2 separate regions of the Homo sapiens genome follow, and region 2 is linked to region 1. Evidence: fine-mapped expression QTL. A gene starts in region 1. The other region holds a variant in brackets. All regions are shown on one strand. Distances are from middle to middle. Region 1 holds the start of MMP11 (matrix metallopeptidase 11). Region 2 has its middle 5.7 kb from the start of DERL3.

Region 1 (4,380 bases):
CATTTCTGCTTCCAGTGCATTCCCTCTGTCTTGGCCAGTAGCCTCCCTTGGCCTGCCCTGTGGTGGGTTCTTAGCTCACTCAGCCCCACCCTCTTCTGCCAGACACCAAACCTCAGCTGCAGACACATTCAAGGAATTTCTCAGCTGACCCAGTGTCCTGGCAGAGCTTAGAGACTCGGAGTCAACCCCGCCCTGGGGTCAACTTGCAATCCAGAAAATGGGAGGCACCAGATAGAGGGGAGATAAGGGAGGACCCCAGGGTGCCAGGAAACACTGCGAAAGGCTGGGCTCATTGTGCCCCTTTCTGGGCCTCAGTTTGCAGTTGGTCTAGTGGGTATAATTAATCATAGCTATGCCTTCTGATGTCGGTGGGAGGCAAGACTTCGAGGAGGGCACTTGTTAGGCTATGGAGGAAGACGGGAGCATCACCATGCAGGCTCAGAGAGGTCAAGCAACCTGCCCAACTCACACAGCCAGGTGGCAAGCAGGGATATCTTCTCCCTCAAGCTTCCACCTAATCTTCCTATTCTCACCCCTCTGCTGCTGGCTCCAGGAGGGACGGTAGCTTCGTCCCATCCATCGGACTGCAGGGCTTCCATCAACCCTGAAAGCTGGGAACTGGGCTGGATAAATATTTACAGAGCTCTCCCAGCCTTGCTGAAGGCAGCCGGGGGATAAACACATCAGAGGTGACCCCACATGCTCCCTGCGTGTTTGCAGAGTGACAGACCACAGTCCAGCTCAGACCCCACCCCAAGCTGGCCCCCAGCTCCAGCACTGACCATGCACAAGCGTCAAAGTGGCAGCTACAGGTGACAGTGTTTCTAGTGAGCCTGGCATCACCTCATTGCTCAACAGTGGACACAGCAGTAGGCACCATTGCCCCCTCCCACCTGCACTCCCATTAGAGATGGAGTGGGTGAGATTCTGAGGCATGGCAGGATTCACCCAGGGTCACATGGTTCAAACCCAGATCTCTCCAATTTCCAGACCTGTGGTTCAATGTCTACCCACAGTGATTCCTGACTCTGTCCCAAGTCCTAGGAACCAAGAGGGGCTGGGAAGGAGGCAAGACTCCAGACTGAGATGCCCCCCATTCACTCTACCCCACCCATCCCATCCCTTTCTGCTCCCATAGCCAGCACAGGACAAGGCTGCCCTGAGCAGAGCCAGAGTGGCTGGACAGAGGGTCCCAGCCTGGCCAGGCCTGCCTCCTCACCAGGCCAGTCCTGAGACTCCTGCCTGTCACACCCTCCTGCTCCCTTCCCTGCCCGAGCTGTCTGGATGCCTCCGCTGTGGAGTGGAGTGGCCCAGGCTCTGGCCCCAGGCCCTGTGACTGGTGCCTGGAAGCGCCCCAGGGAAGGGGCAGCTTTTGGGACACATGCAAGCTGTCACACACACTCCATGACAGTCCCTCCTCTCCTCACTCTGCTGTCCTCTCTTACCTGGGCTTTCTTCTCCTCTCCTGAGCACACATTTTCTCCCTTTCCTTTCTCTCCCCGCTTCTTTCTGACAGCCACCTCTCAGTCACACACACACTGCACTCATACTATTTCATACTCATGTTCTCCTGGCTCCAAGCCTCCCAAAACTGCTGCCGGCAGGTGCCCGCGGGGGACATCTCCAGGCTTAGACCCCATTTCCCGCAGCACAGCGCTGCCCTCCCTTCTCCCTTTATCCTTCATCCCACCGCACACCTGGAGGTGTACTAACTGCGGCCACACACCTGCAGGCTGACACCTGCCTGGGATCTGCTCGGCTTTGTCCCTGCGATGAATAGGGGGCCCTGTTACCACTCCCTCTGCTGCTTCCTTCAACGCACACTCCAGCACCCGCGGCTGGAGCGCGAGAGGCAGGTCCCCACGCTGGGAGCAAGCGTGAGTCCAGCGTGGAGTCCCGTCCCACCAGCCCGAACGATGCCGGCGCCGGCTCCCCTTCACACCCCCAGGGACTGCAAGCTCGCTGTCTATCACGCCTAGAGGGAACCAGAAAGCGTTTCGGGTACCGGGCGCTGGAGGCCACCCGGGGCGCCCCCTTCGGTCCGGATCCGCCGCTGGGCCCAGCCCGCGTGCCCGGCGCCCCCTCAGCGAGGAGCGGCCGGCGAGTGGCGGGCACTCACCGGCGGCAGAGCCCGGGCCAGCAGCGGCGGCGGCTGGAGCAGCAGCAGCAGCATCGGGGGCAGGAGGGCGCGCGCGGCCGCGCTGCGGAGCCAGGCGGCCGGAGCCATCCGCCCCGGGGCTGCTGGGCTTGCTGGGCCGCTCCGGGCCGCCGCCCCTTATAGCTTCCGCCCCACCCCCGGCCCGCCTCGGCCCCGCCCCCCGCCGCCTTTTGTTCTGAACTCTCCTAGCAGCCGCGGCCCGGGTGGGGGAGGTGAACGGGGAGGGTACGGCCCAGCGGGGTCGAGGGCCGGAGACAGGGTCCTGCCCCGGGGCTGGCAAAGTCCCTATCTGGTGCTGGGTGACCCTGGCCAACCCGTGCCGCTCTGGGTCTCAGTTTCTCCTCTGGGTGGTGGCCGTCCAAAGTCTTAGACTTGGCTAGAGTCTGAGAGGAGTCAGGTTTCATGGGTCCCATCCGTACCCCCACCTTTGGAAGGCGCATCCCACTGGGTCTCCTTGGTGGCCTGACCTCTGACCTCTGACAGGTGGTCCTACCCACAAGCAAGTTCCCCCACCCCTCAGAGCCTCAACGGATCCTTCTAGAAGATGACACAATAGCCCCTGTGAGGAAAGGGATATTATTTTATTTTTTATTATTATTATTTTTTGAGACACAGTCTCACTCTGTCTCCCAGGCAGGAGTGCAGTGGTGTGATCTCCACTCACTGCAACCTCCGCCTCCCAGGTTCAAACGATTCTGCTACCTCAGCCTCCCAAGTAGCTGGGACCACAGACGTGCGCCACCATGCCTGGCTAATTTTTGTATTTTTAGTAGAGATGGGGTTTCACCATGTTGGCCAGGCTGGTCTCGAACTCCTGACCTCAAGTGATCTGCCCACCTTGGCCTCCCAAAGTGCTGGGATTACATGGGGAAGCCATTGCACCTGGCCAGGAAAGGGATATTAAAATGTGTCCCAGGGGAAAGTGAGGCATATGGCAGGGACTGGCCAGTTCTTCAGCTTGGGATAGACCGAAGTTTACAGATAGGGAAACTGAGGCTCCAAGAGGGAGGGTCCAGGCTTTTCCACACCAGCAGACAAGTGGAGGGGTCAGGAGGTCCTCTAGCTGGTCAGCTGTGGGAAGGATGCTGTCAGAAGGCTGTGGGAGGTGTCTGAGTGGAGTACTGGGCCCCCAGGGTGTCCCCTCGTCAGTGCCCAACAAGCCCCTGGGGACCCCTCCAGGCTAGCCACCTCAGACTTGAAAGAAAGGAGGCGAGAGGCCGGGCGCAGTGGCTCATGCCTGTAATCCCAGCACTTTGGGAGGCCGAGGCAGGTGGATCACGAGGTCAGGAGTTGGAGAGCAGCCTGACCAACATGGTGAAACCCTGTCTCTACTAAAAATACAAAAATTAGCCAGGTGTGGTGGCACACACCTGTAAGCCCAGCTACTCAGGAGGCTGAAGCAGGAGAATCACTTGAACCCGGGAGGCGGAGGTTGCAGTGAGCCGAGATTGTTCCATTGCACTCCAGCCTGGGTGACAGAGCGAGACTCCATCTCAAAAAAAAGAAGGAAAGGAGGTGAGACTCAAAGGAGGGGTTGTGTCCACATTCTGGAAGGGATCCTTCAGTCTCATCCCTGATTTTCGGGGTTACCCAGTACTGCTGTACACCCCCTGAAATGATGAAGGGCCTCACCACCTCACCAGGCGACCTGTTCCATCATGGGTGGCCCTGCAGAGCCACGATCCAGGCAGTGGCTCGCATCCTGGCAGGCAGGGCTCTGAGCTGCTCAAAGGTGAGGCTGTGGTCAGGAAGCCTGGGCCAAGAAAGGGAAGCGGGTGGGGAAATGTTTCACAGCTTATTCAAGAAGACTCCACAGAGACTCCTAGAGGGCGAGGAGAAGTAAGACAGCAGTAATTTTTACAACCTACACTGTTCGTAATCTTTTCTTTTTTTTTTTTTTTTTTTTGAGACGGAGTCTCTCTCTGTCGCCCAGGCTGGAGTGCAGTGACGCGATCTCGGCTCACTGCAAGCTCCGCCTCCCAGGTTCATGCCATTCTCCTGCCTCAGTCTCCCGAGTAGCTGGGACTACAGGCGCCCGCCACCATGCCCAGCTAATTTTTTATATTTTTAGTAGAGATGGGGTTTCACCGTGTTGGCCAGGCTGGTCTTGAACTCCTGACCTCAGGTGATCCACCCGCCTCGGCCTCCCAAAGTGCTGGGATTACAGGCGTGAGCCACCGCGCCTGAAAGGCAATCTTTTCTTTAAAGTCACTCACTTTTAT
Region 2 (4,380 bases), 72 kb before region 1:
ACTCCGCCAGGCTTTTTCGAAGTCAAAGACAGAGCTGTCTCAGGTTTTGTCTCTGTGAACTCATATCCCTGGCCCTGCCATATGGCTGACTCTGCCAAACAGATAATCTGCTTCTCCCCCTACACCGCCCACAGTGCTGAGCTTGAAAATAGCTGAGGCAGGGGAGGGGGAAGCCCCCACCAGATGCTCTGGAGCTCTGGGGTGCTTGGCCGGAGGTGGCTTTGACATTCTGGCAGCGGCCACAGCAGGAAGTGGGAATTCCTGGCAATTGCTCTGGGTCATGACAGTCAGGACACAGGCTCAGGCAGGTCCCGCAGCTGAGGGCTGAATGGAGACAGTTTCATCAGCCATGAAGGGTCAGAGACAGTAAAACGAGGCCCAGACAGCAGGGAGGCAGCTCAGGAGTGGAGTCTCATGTTGGAGACGCTCCCTGGGAGCCCAGAGGCTGCAAAAAGTTCTCACCTCCAAACCGGAGCTGGAAAAGGGTCTGGGGCTGCACAGCATTAGCTGGTTGGTGATGTCCCTCACTCCCCTGTGCCCCAGTGATGGGGTCAGGGATAGCTCACTTCCTCCGCATGGGTCCCTTCCATCACCCGTTATGGTGGCAAAGCCAGGACTGCTGATTTTGTGCCTCTTTAGCTGTGTGTCCTCAGGCAGTTTACTGAACCTCTCTGAGCCTATTTTCTCATCCGTAATAGTAACCTACTTCATCAGGTGGTGATGAGGGTTCGGTGAGTTTAATAAAAGCCATGGTGCAGTCTGGCTATAGATCACTGAGCAGCTATTATCTCCCGCACTTCACAGGTCCTTGCCTAGTCCATGAGCAGCACACGGGCCCATTCCTGCCTCCCCACTTTTGCTTAAGCCTTTGTCCCTGCCTAGCACATCCCCTCCTCCTCCTGTCCTCATCAGGAGCTCTCCTGCCCCACGGCTGCCCTGGACCACTCACCAGTGCATTTCCACTCCCTGCTTGGTATGGGATTCAGTGTCTCCTCCCCTGGCCAGAAGCTGAGCTCCTGCAGGAAAAAGGCACCCACAGCGACTCCCTCCCCAGCCCTGCAGGCCTCTCTGGCTGTTCCTGACCATAGGCCCATGAAGGCTCCTGGCTGAGAGGAGACAGCGAGGAACAGATCCGGCAGAGAGGACTGGCAGGGGCCCTCCAGCTTCCTCTGTTGGTGCATTCTTGCTCATAAGCATTCACTTATTCATAGCAGAGATGGGCCTTGGATGGGGAGGCCAGCTGTGTTTGTTACAGGAAGGGGCTTCCACCCAGAAATCTCTGATACCCCCATTATAGATCAGAGTACAACCTTGGAGCTGAAAGAGACTCTACACATGGACCCTTCTGACCCGCATCTCACAGAGAGGGACACAGAGCCAGAGAGGGAAGGGAGTGCTCAGGTCACAATGCCAGCCCCGAGGCTGCATTTCCAGCCCTGGAGTCCAGGTCTCTGTCTTCACAAGTTTCCCTGTTTTTCCCTGTTTACCAAGCCCCTGCCTGTGCCAGCTCCGCAGCAGAAACCAGGCCTAGAGGGGCCATTGTGTGGACAACTGCAGCCCTTCTGCATGAAGCAGGAATGACCAGGGCCACGGAAGGGAAGGAGCTGGGAGGACTGGGCTAGAGGCCAGGGAGGGCTTCCACCCCACAGCACCCCAAGCTCACCTGCCTGACTCAACGAGTGGTCTCCCTCCCTTACTGGCCATTCACCCATGTCTCCACCCAGTGGGGGCTCACTGTCCCCCAAGCTGGGTAGGCCAGGACCCCTCCTACCTTCACCCCCACTACCAAGCATTCACTAAGGCCTGTGGCTTCAGCCATCCTAACCCTTCCACTCCCTCGCTGTTAATGCAAGCCACTGCAGGCCACCGCTCTCCTCCCCGGCTCATCTGATTAGGACAGAGACCACGGCCGACACACCTCTGCCTGGCCTGGCCCCGCTTCTCCCTCCCGTCACAAGCAACTCTTCTTCCTTGCCTCCTTCACCTTCTCTCCTCTGCTCCCTTCCTCTCCCCCAGTTACCTCAGGGCCTTTGCACAGGCCCTTCCCCTATCCTGGCCTAGCTAGTGCAACCCATCCTCTGCCCCATTCTGCTTCCTCCCTCCCCATCCCACCCAGAGACCAGCTTATTCCTGGAAAGTCCAGATTCTGCTACCAGGTTCAGAGGGCCAGGCCCAGGCCGCTCCCTCTGCAGCCTGACACAACCCACCTGGATGGTTTGTTGTTCTTGCGCTCCGGCCACAAGCAGCTGCTGCTATGTGGGTTCCG[G/C]ATTCAGTGCTAAAAATAGCCTGTGGCCCAGACAGGAAGGGCCAAGGGGGACACAGCTGTTTCTGGGAGGGGCTAGCTGGAAGCCTACTCACAGCAATTGCAGGGGTCCCTGTGCTCAAAGGGGGTGGGCCCCGTGCTCAAAGAGGGGAGAGGTCCCCCAATGGACAAGTGCTCAGGGCCCAAAAGGCACTATGTGTCATCAAGAAGAAAATACAGCTGCACCAGCAGGTACACAAACGTTCAGTTTGTTTGATTCTTGTGGTTAGTTACAACAGGCATGGACTGCCTTTAGAATAAAATATATTTAAAAATTAAGTGCTCAGGACTCTAACAGAAGTAGGTGAGCTCTGGTCCCTTTGAAGGTGACCAGGGAGGGCTTCCTGGAGTAGGAGGCACTTTCACCCTCTGCTCTTCCTCTCTTATTTTTTTAATTTTATTTATTTTGCTTTTAAGAAACATATTTATTTTATTATTTTATTATTTTTGAGACAGAGTCTTGTTCTGTCGCCCAGGCTGGAGTGCAGTGGCACGATCTTGGCTCACCGCAACATCCGCCCCCGGGGTTCAGGTGATTCTCGTGCCTCAGCCTCCTGAGTAGCTGGGATTACAGGTGCATACCACCTTGCTTGGCTAATTTTTGTATCTTTAATAGAGACAGGGTTTCACCATGTTGGCCAGGCTGGTCTCCAACTCCTGACCTCAGGTGATCCACCGGCCTTGGCCTCCCAGGGTTCTGAGATTACAGGCATGAGCCAATGTGCCCAGCCAGGAAACATTTTTTAAAAAATATTTTTAAGAGTCGGGGTCTCACTCTGTCACCCAGGCTGGAGTGCAGTGGTGCAATCTCTGCTCACTGCAGCCTTGACCTCCCAGGCTCAAGCGATCCTCCAGCCTCAGCCCCCTGGCTCTCTCCCCCTTCCCACTTGGGGCTACAGGCATGCACCAGCACGTCTGGCTAATTTCTGTATTTTTTGTAGAGATGGGGTTTCTGTATGTTGCCCAGGCTGGTGTTGAACTCCTGAGCTCAGGCAATCCGCCTTCCTCAGCCTCCCAAAGTGCTAGGACTACAGGCGTGAGCCGCCACACCCAGCCTTACTCTTTTTTTTTTTTTTTTTTTTAACAGAATGAATAGTTCAGAGAGCTGGGACAATATTAGAGGAGAGAACCTGAGGCCTGAATAAGAGTTAGTGGTGGTGGTAAGGCATAGGAGAGAAGGGAAAGGACTAGAGAGTTCCATGGGAGCATCAAGTGTGACATAGGGGGCCGGGCGTGGTGGCTCACGCCTGTAATCCCAGCACTTTGGGAGTCCAAGGGAGGATTGCTTGAGGACAGGGGTTTGCGACCAGTCTAAGCAACACAGTGAGACGCCATCTCTACAAAAAAATTAAAAAATTAGCGGGGCATGGTGGCATATGCCTGTTGTCCCAGCTACTTGGGAGGTTGAGGTGGGAGGATCACTTGAGCCCAAGAGGTTGAGGCTGCAGTGAGCTGTGATCACGCCACTACTCTCCAGTCTGGGCAACAGAGCAAGACCCTGTCTCTAGGAAAAAAAAAAAAAAGTGCAACATGGGGCTGAGGGTATAGAGCTGACTCCAGGCTTGGGGGCTGAGGATGGCCCCTCCTAGTGTGTGAGGCCAGTGAGGGGGAAAGCTGGGTGGGGAGAGTATGCAGAGGGCGCTATCCTGCCTACAGACACTGAGAGGGCCTGGACAGGAGATCTAGGTGTCCTCTGGGAGTCAGCAGGAAGCGTCACAATGCCAGGGAGGTGGCATGGGGAGCAGAGCCCATTGTCACCTTGCCGAGGAACCACAGGTCTCCACCCACCCACCATCCTCAGCACAGGAGAAAGAAGGCTGGCCCAGCCGACAGGTCTGCCACCCTGATGTTAGGGTAAGGCACACCCTGCATCTCTAGGACCCTGGGAACTTGGGATGCCCAGGGCTTCCCTCTATAAAGAATTATCTGGAGGGGCTCAAGGGTCCAAGGAGAAGTGGACCTAGTATTTCCAGAGTGGCCTGTTCTGGGCCTCAGACTGGACAAGAAAGAATGGAGGTCTGCCCCAGGCCCTGTTCTGCATCCTTACGTGCCTCAGTTCCCCCATCTGAGGATATCCC

What was found. PIP is the estimated chance that this variant, and not a neighbour inherited with it, causes the effect.
Region 2: its variant is the best candidate, but not a certain one, in a credible set for the expression of MMP11 in whole blood (TOPMed, PIP 0.84).

What each region holds. Positions count from the first base shown.
Region 1 is chr22:23,770,718-23,775,097 of GRCh38, reverse strand. MMP11 (matrix metallopeptidase 11) reads right to left here and starts at 2,249. Exons shown (of 8, transcript NM_005940.5): 1 at 2,120-2,249. The coding sequence starts at 2,227. LOC107985577 (a long non-coding RNA gene) reads right to left here. Exons shown (of 3, transcript XR_007068022.1): 2 at 3,791-3,911; 3 at 2,721-3,229.
Region 2 is chr22:23,842,497-23,846,876 of GRCh38, reverse strand. No RefSeq gene overlaps it. Among named protein-coding and RNA genes, the nearest start is that of DERL3, 5.7 kb to the right of the region's middle. RefSeq lists enhancers at 2,002-2,495, 4,110-4,380. The variant G/C (reference allele first, on the strand shown) is at 2,267.